2 separate regions of the Homo sapiens genome follow, and region 2 is linked to region 1. Evidence: fine-mapped expression QTL. A gene starts in region 1. The other region holds a variant in brackets. All regions are shown on one strand. Distances are between the middles of the regions.

Region 1 (4,388 bases):
TTAGGAGATCAGAGTCTCCTAATCAGGTTGCCAACGCCCACTCCGGGAAAAGGGACATTCTCTGACTTGGGCTGGGAGACACTCAGAAAGTGTCTACTAGAATGCAACTTTCACCAACACATTCCCCAGACCTCTTCCATTAAATATTTATCTGTATCAAAGGGAAGTATAGTTCATTTCTGATACGTCTCTGTTCACTTCTTCACATTTTATGCTGCAATCACAAAGACTTGCTTGTCATCCCAACTACCTGTTCGCTGCTTACCACTCCTACTCACCTACACAATCATATTTCATGCCTAAGTCCTGTGGTCCTCTGTGCTTGTAATGGTCTTCTTCCAATCCTTAATGTCATTGCTTCTAGACTTTACCGGCTCTCTTTACCTTCCTAGACTAGTTAACCTCTTTCTTTTAGGCATTGTAACATCATGCACATAAATCTCCATTATTGTCCAGCTCCATTGTTTTGAGATTTACTATCTAGTTTCTGACATCTTTATACCCCCAGACATTGCAAGCCTCGCCTACGGTGGGAGGCCAGGTTGAACTAACATACCCTGAAAGTTTCCTTTTAGCTAATAATTGACTCTAAAAGAGAGTGTAATCATTACATAAAAAGTATTGTCCTCTGGGCGCGGTGGCTCACGCCTGTAAATCCCAGCACTTTGGGAGGCCGAGGCGGGCGGATCACGAGGTCGGAAGTTCGAGAGCAGCCTGACCAACATGGCGAAACCTCGTCTCTATAAAAATACAGAAATTAGCCAGGCGTGGAGACAGGTGCCTGTAATCCCAGCTACTCAGGAGGCTGAGGCAGGAGAATGGCTTGAACCCGGGAGGCGGAAGGTTGCAGTGAGCCGAGATCGCGCCACTGTACTCCAGCCTGGGCGACAGTGCCAGACTCGTCTCAAAAAAAAAAAAAAAAAAAAAAAAAGTCTTGTCTGCATAAAACCCTTACAATTGTTAACTTGTCAAGGTTCTAGTAGCCAGGAAGTTCTAATCAAACTCGGCCCCAGGACTGCCTTGTCAGCACGCCCCTTGAGAAACTTTTCTGAGAAACCTGCTGTTTACCTGGTGCCCTAACCAGTTTAATTTTCTTTTAAAACTTCTACTGGATTTCTCCTTCTCTCCTTTTAGATGCAATTTTGATCTAGAGAAGTAATGGTCTGAGCATCAGTTTATGAAATTATTTTATTTTTCTGCACATAAACATTATTTTTCAAAGACAATTTCATTAACTACATCCTGCAGCTCTGCAGACTTTCAACAACTTTAAAAGGTTAGGCGTTTGAGATATGTTCGCCTTGACTTTCAGTCCTCAAGACATATGTACATTTTTCTTAGTCTCAAAGCTCATGTCTGCACTCTAGTCCTAAAGGATTTGTCTTTATAATTCTCACCTTAGCATGAAATGTGCTTCTCTTTCTTTCCTTCCCCACCCCCCACCCCCTTTTGACATATCCGGTAGGGAAGCTCTGGCAGATTCTCAAGAAGAATTTTGCAAATGGTCGACTTTTGTTCATCTCAGGTTTTGGAGGGAGAGGATAAAAGAACATTCCCTCAGATAATGAGTTTTAACCTTAATTCCTTCCAAAGCGGAGGGGGAAACAAAACTACAGCAAGACCACCTTGAGTACCTTGGGAAGGGCAGCCCCGCGATCCCTAATAAATGAATTAGCATCTCAAGGAGGAGATCACTGCGGGGCTGATATTGATCAGGGTCAGCCGGCGTGTTTGCCAGCCATTGTTTGGGGGGTGGTTAATTGAGTGTCAGTCTCGGCCAGTGTCGTCTCGTTGGCGCCGGGTGCTTTTGGATTTGCTAATTTTCGTTAAGTGTCTCTAGCCCGCTACTCGTCCCGCGTACCCGGGAGAACCTAGCGGCTCCTAACGGATCAACAGTCAGTCTGTCTGGGCTTTATTGATCCCATGGCGGGCAGCTCGAGGCGGACACGCTGAGGGGGTGGGGGGCGAAGGCTGAATGCAGACCCCAGCGCTGGGCCGCCTCCCCCGGGCTCCCACCCGAACCCTCCTCCGCCACCTGCACAGGCCGGGGCATTGTCACTCGCCCCTGGGGGTTCCAGAAAACGCAGTGCGGCCGGGGAGGACGACCACACGGACCCCCTGCGTGTTTCGGGGGGCACCCAAAAGAAGCCCCGCGCTGGGGAACGCTGACCACCCGAGGCTGAGCCGTCAGGGTCTCGGAGGCGGGTTCCCGAGCCGGTCCCGGGGCTGGGCTCCCCCGGCGCCTCGCGAAGGTCACTGACGCGCAGGCCTCCGCAAGGGGGAGCGCGGGAGACGGCAGCGCACCAGCCGGGCGCCCCAGCCGGGCGCCCCAGACGCCGGCGCCGCTCGGAGCCGCCGGGCAGGTCCCCCAGCGCTCGCGTCTGGGCCCGCCCCCCGCTGCGGGGCGGATTGACAGGAGCCCGGCGGCCAATCGGACGCCGTGGGGCGGGGCGAGGCGGGGCGGTGCAGGCCGGCTCCCGGCGCGGGGCGCTATTTACGGCGCGGAGCCGGAGAGACCTGGGCTGGCGCGGGCGGGAGCTGCGGCGGATACCCTTGCGTGCTGTGGAGACCCTACTCTCTTCGCTGAGAACGGCCGCTAGCGGGGACTGAAGGCCGGGAGCCCACTCCCGACCCGGGGCTAGCGTGCGTCCCTAGAGTCGAGCGGGGCAAGGGAGCCAGTGGCCGCCGACGGGGGACCGGGAAACTTTTCTGGGCTCCTGGGCGCGCCCTGTAGCCGCGCTCCATGCTCCGGCAGCGGCCCGAAACCCAGCCCCGCCGCTGACGGCGCCCGCCGCTCCGGGCAGGGCCCATGCCCTGCGCGCTCCGGGGGTCGTAGGCTGCCGCCGAGCCGGGGCTCCGGAAGCCGGCGGGGGCGCCGCGGCCGTGCGGGGCGTCAATGGATCGCCACTCCAGCTACATCTTCATCTGGCTGCAGCTGGAGCTCTGCGCCATGGCCGTGCTGCTCACCAAAGGTGGGTGCCGGGGGCGCACGGGGCCCGGGGTCCCGTCCTCGCCGCGGGGCTTTGGAGCCGGCTGCAGAGGCTTTGTTAGCGGCAGGCGAGGCTCCCTCCTGCGCCGGAGCCGCAGGTCGCGACAAGTTGCTGTGTTCTTAGAAGTCGCGGCGGTGGCCTGGCGCGTGGATGCGGACTCCGATCTAAGGGCAGGCGCTGATCAGAGGGTCCTCCTGGCTCTGCCTGCGGGGAGCGGCGCGTTTGCAGCCCAGCGGGGAGCGGGGCCGGAGTCTCGGCCTCGACGCCGCCGCTTCCGCACCCTGGGGGCTCGGGCGGCCGGGAGGAATCGCAGATCCTGGCCTGTAGCTGCCGCGTGCCCTCAGCGTGTCTGTGTGAGTGCCTCAGGGTGTATTTCTGTGAGTGTGTCTCTGAGTCTCAGTATCCCTAAATGCATTTTTGTGTCTCTGAGTGTCGTTGTGTTTCTGAAAGTGTGTCTGAACCTCTGTATCACTCAGCGTATCTCTGTGTCTCTTTGAATGTATCTCTGAATGCATTTCTGTGTCTCTTTCTGAGTCTTTGTGTCTCTGAATGTGTGAGTCTCTGTATCTCTGATCTTGAGTGTGTCTTTCTGAATGCATTTCTGTGTCTGTCTCTAAGTGTCTTTGTATCTCTGAATGTGCATCTGAGTCTCTGTGTGAGTGTGTCTCTGCGTACATCTCTCTGTGTGCGAGCGAGTGTGTGGGTCTCCCTGAGAGTTTAGGTGTCCGAGGTGTGCAGAAGTGTGTGTTGTGTTGCTTTTCAGCAGCCGGGAGGAGTAGGCTCTGTCAGCGTCTCACTGCCACTCACCTCATATTTTACAAACAGGACCAAAAAAAAAAAAAAGGCAGCGGGTCAGTTTCTTCTTTCCTCTGCAGGCTTTCACCTTTTAGAAAGAAATAACCCGAACTGTCTCCGAATTTCAAGGTTCTCCTCACCTCCCTGCTGTGAAATCTACCTACTGTTCTGTGAACAGATAATTTTTTTAAGTAGGAAGCAGTTTAGTCTTTGCAGCCCCCTACTTCTCTTTAATTGCTATGTAGCAGGCATGAGGTTAAAGCATAAGCTAGCCCAGCGAGGATGATGTGCTACAGTATTTATTTATTTTGGAAGGAAGGGTGTAATTAACCCTAAATAACAGCCCTTGTGGCTTGCAGAGGGGAGCCTCCTGGCCCTATCAAAGGCGGGCAGAACAGGGAGGGACTGAGGCTGACATGAAGTCACAGATACCGAAACTATGTGCCTGATAATGATATAATTAGGGGATCAGAGATTTCTGACGGCTGCGGACTTCAAAAGCTTTAAAAGAAGCCAGCAGTCTCTCCTGTAGCCATCTTGACTAAAGCAGACATTTTTGTTTAATCACTACATACAGTAACGAGAAGGGGACAGAAACAGAAG
Region 2 (4,388 bases), 140 kb after region 1:
GTGAGCTATGATCACATCACTGAACTCCAGAGTAAGACCCTGTCAACAAAAAAGAAAAGAAAAGAAAGAGAAAAAGAAAGAAAAAGTAATTTAGTTATGGTGGTAAAAGAATTGAAAGAAAGAAAGAAAGAAAGAGAACGAAAGGGAGAAAGGAGGGAAGGAGGAAGGGAGGGAGGAAGGAAGCAAGCAAGGAAGGAAGGAAGGATTTTAGTTAGGTGGTAAAATAATTGACTCTTCCTCTGCCTCCACACAGCCTGCAAGCAGCAGCTGGTGCCCAGCGTGCAAATGTATCACTACCAGCACCAGAGGTTAACAGATACTACAGCTGGAGCTGCAGAAAGAGCCTCCTGAGGAGCTGGACTCTGCAGATGAGAATGAAAGCAGTGACTTTATGGTGTACAGGTGTCCAGGCGTGGCCCCGAACAGGGAGATGGTGGTGTGCAACCCTCTTTTTGGCCACTTCTCGCTGTCAGTGCCTCTGCTGGGCCCACGCCCACTGCCCCACTGAAGTGACCCCCAAGGCTGCAGGACACCCACCTGCTCCATGAGTGGGGAGAGGCAGGGCCCACGCTTCTCATTACAAAAATATGTTCTGACACTCTGAGTACTTGTGGCTGGGCTGGAGAGGCATTGGGCCCTGGGATCTCTTGCCAGGGAGACAACCCCCCTGCAACTTTGTGCTAGGTAATCTTCTGTCCCCTCTTGTGTCTCTTCTTTCCAGTCTGGACCTTCAAATTGGAGGGGGTGAGGAGAACCCTAAAGCCCAGGCATCGATGGGGAATTCTGGAGACAAAAGCTAATTAAAGTTCATTTCAAACCTGTGGGGAGAAAAATTCTAGACATAAACCTAATGTAAAGAAACACATAAAATTTTATTGGAAGACAAAAGAAAAGTGGAATGAGCACACATATCATGTTTTTGGATGGTAAGAATAAAAATTGTGAAAGTGTCAATTTTTTTCTAAATCATCTATTAATTCAATGCAACCTCATGAAAAATTACAAAGGGATTGTTTTAGTCCATTTTATGTTGCTATAACAACACCACAGACTGGGTAATTTATAATAAGCAGAAATTTGTTTGGCTCATAGTTCTGGAGGCTGGGAAGTCCAAGAGCATGGTGCCAGCATTTGGTGAGAGCCTTGGTGCTGCATCATCCCATGGCAGGAGTTGATAGGACAAGAGAGAGGGCTAGAGTAAGACAGGGAAGGTGATCCAAATGTATTCTTTTATCAGGAATCCACTCTTGAGATAACTAACCCACTCCTGCAATAACTTCATTAATTCATTTATGTAGTGCCCTCCTGACCTAATCACCTCTTAAAGGTCTCATCTCTCAACATTGTTGCACTGGGCTTTAAATTTCCAACACATGAACTTTGGGGGGCCACATTCAGACCATAACAGGGATATTTTATGAAATTTGACAAGCTGATCTGCTAGTTTATATAGAATGGAAAATACACAGATTAATAAAATAGATTTAAATTTCTTTTTTTTCTAGAGACAGGGTCTCACTTTGTCACCCAGGTGGGAGTACAGTGGTATGATCATAGCTCACTGCAGCCTCCAACTCCTGGGCTCAGCCAGTCCTCCTGCTTCATCCTCCCAAGTAGCTGGAACTATAGGCATACACCACCACATCTGGCTAATTAAAACTTTTATTTTTTATCTTTTTGGTAGAGACGGGGTCTTACTATGTTACTCAGGCTGGTGTCAAACTTCTGGCCTCAAGTGATCCTCCTGCCTTATCCTTCCAAAGAGCTGGGATTATAAGCCAACTCACCTGGCCAATA[G/A]AAAAGATTGGCACCACTTTTAAAATTTGAATTTTTTGCCAACAATAAAAATTTGAGCTGGGCAGGGTGGCTTACGCCTGTAATCTCAGCACTTTGGGAGGTCAAGGCAAGTGGATCACAAGGTCAGGAGTTCGAGACCAGCCTGACCAACATGGTGAAACCCTGTCTCTATCAAAAATACAAAAATTAGCTGGTGTGGTGGCGCACGCCTGTAATCCCAGCTACTCGGGAGGCCGAAACATGAGACTCACTTGAACCCGTGAGGCAGAGGTTGCAGTGAGCCGAGATCACGCCACCGCACCCCAGCCTGGGTGACATAGTGAGACTCCATCGCAAGAAAAAAAAATTGAGGTTTAATGCAGTGATATAAATAAAATATGATCAACAGTTCTGGATAAAATATTTGCAAGCTACATGGTTAATAGAGATTATTATTCATAATAGGTCAGGAGCTCATACAAGTAAAAAAAGGAAAAAAGGCAGAAAGATGGATAAAAATGGAAACAGTCAAGTGATTCACTTAAATCAATCTACATGTGAAAACATTCTTAATCTCGTTAGTAAAACAGTGAACACAGATCAAAGTGTGTCCGGAATTGGTTGTTTCTTGGTCTCACTGACTTCAAGAATGAAGCCTTGGACCCTCACGGTGAGTGTTACAAGTCTTAAGGTGGCGCGTCTGGAGTTTGTTCCTTCTGACGTTCGGATGTGTTCGGAGTTTCTTCCTTCTGGTGGGTTCGTGGTCTCGCTGGCTCAGGAGTGAAGCTGCAGACCTTCCCGGTGAGTGTTACAGCTTTTAAGGCGGCATATCTGCAGTTGTTCGTTCCTCCTGGTGGGCTCATGGTCTCGCTGGCTTCAGGAGTGAAGCTGCAGATCTTCCTGGTGAGTGTTACAGCTCATAAAAGTAGCGTGGACCCAAAGAGTGAGCAGTAGCAAGATTTAACTGCAAAGAGAAAAGAACAAAACCTCCACAGTGTGGAAGAGGGCCCAAGCGGGTTGCCACTGCTGGGTCGGGCTGCCTGCTTTTATTCTCTTATCTGGCCCCACCCACATCCTGCTGATTGGTAGAGCCGAGTGGCCTGTTTTAACAGGGTGCTGATTGGTGCGTTTACAAACCCTCAGCTAGACATAAAGGTTCTCCACAGCCCCATCAGACTCAGGAGCCCAGCTGGCTTCACCCAGTGGATCCCGCACAGGGGCTGCAGGTGGAGCTGCCTGCCAGTCCAGCACCATGCGCTCGCACTCCTCAGCCCTTGGGTGGTCGATGGGACTGGGCGCCGTGGAGCAGGGAGTGGCGCTCGTCGGGGAGGCTCGGGCTGCACAAGAGCCCACGGAGGCGGGGGAAGGCTCAGGGATGGCGGGCTGCAGTCCCGAGGCCTGCCCCGCAGGAAGGCAGCTAAGGCCCGGCGAGAAATCCACCGCAGCGCCGGTGGGCCGGCACTGCTGGGGGACCCAGTACACCCTCCGCAACCGCTGGCCCGGGTGCCAAGTCCCTCACTGCCCAGGGCCGTTAGGACCGGCCGGCTGCTCGGAGTGCGGGGCCCGCCAAGCCCACGCTCACCCGGAACTCCAGCTGGCTCGCAAGCGCGGCGCGCAGCCCCGGTTCCTGCTCGCGCCTCTCCCTCCACACCTCTCTTGCAAGCTGAGGGAGCCGGCTCTGGCCTTGGCCAGCCCAGAAAGGGGCTCCCATAGTGCAGCGCTGGGCTGAAGGGCTCCTCAAGTGCCACCAAAGTGGGAGCCCAGGCAGAGGAGGCGCCGAGAGCTGTGAGGACTGCCAGCACGCTGTCACCTCGCAAAAGTAAGGAAGATCGATTATTTTTCACCCATTAGCTGGGCAATTCAAAAAAATTCTGTTGCATTCCATTTTGGGGGAGTATGCATTGGTAATAGCCTTTTGAAGATTGATTTGGCAGTGTTTATTAAAAGTAAAAATACCTATTTTCTTTGCATCATCACTTCTGTATTTCTGTCCAAGAGAATTCTTTGCACATGTACAAAGTTATACAGGTTGAAAGAGGCATGGGTAAAGATTTTCAATGCAGCATTGTTCATAATTGCAAAAAATTTTCAATTTAAATGTCCATCATTAGGGAAACAAATTGTGATATTTCCAATACTACATAGCATTATGCAGCAGTAAGAGAGAATAAGGTAAGTGGCTGGGCACGGTGGCTCACGCCTGTAATCCCAGCACTTTGGGAGGCCGAAGTGGGCAGATTACTTGAGGTCAAGAGTTTGAGAACAGCCTGGTCAACATGGTGAAACCCCATCTCTACAAAAACACAAAAAATTAGCTGGACATGGTGGTGTGTGCCTGTAATCCCAGCTACTTGGGAGGCTGAGGTAGGATAATCGCTTAAACTTGGAGGCAGAGGTTGCAGTGAGCTGAGATTGCGCCACTGCACTCCAACCTGAGTGAACCAAAAAAAAAAAAAAAAAAAAAAAAAAAAAAACGAGAGAGAGAGACTAAGGTAGACCTGTAAAGACTAAGGTAGACCTATAGTGATCCACTCACCTCAGCCTCATCACTTGAGATCAGGAGTTTGAGACCGGCCTGGCCAACATGGTGAAATCCCGTTTCTACAAAAATA

Evidence for each region. PIP is the estimated chance that this variant, and not a neighbour inherited with it, causes the effect. A credible set is the group of variants that fine-mapping cannot tell apart.
Region 2: its variant is the best candidate, but not a certain one, in a credible set for the expression of BAMBI in whole blood (INTERVAL, PIP 0.72).

Annotation. Positions count from the first base shown.
Region 1 is chr10:28,675,002-28,679,389 of GRCh38, forward strand. BAMBI (BMP and activin membrane bound inhibitor) reads left to right here and starts at 2,520. Exons shown (of 3, transcript NM_012342.3): 1 at 2,520-2,972. The coding sequence starts at 2,897. RefSeq lists silencers at 1,988-2,547, 3,273-3,417.
Region 2 is chr10:28,812,638-28,817,025 of GRCh38, forward strand. No RefSeq gene overlaps it. Among named protein-coding and RNA genes, the nearest start is that of LINC00837, 19 kb to the left of the region's middle. The variant G/A (reference allele first, on the strand shown) is at 1,798.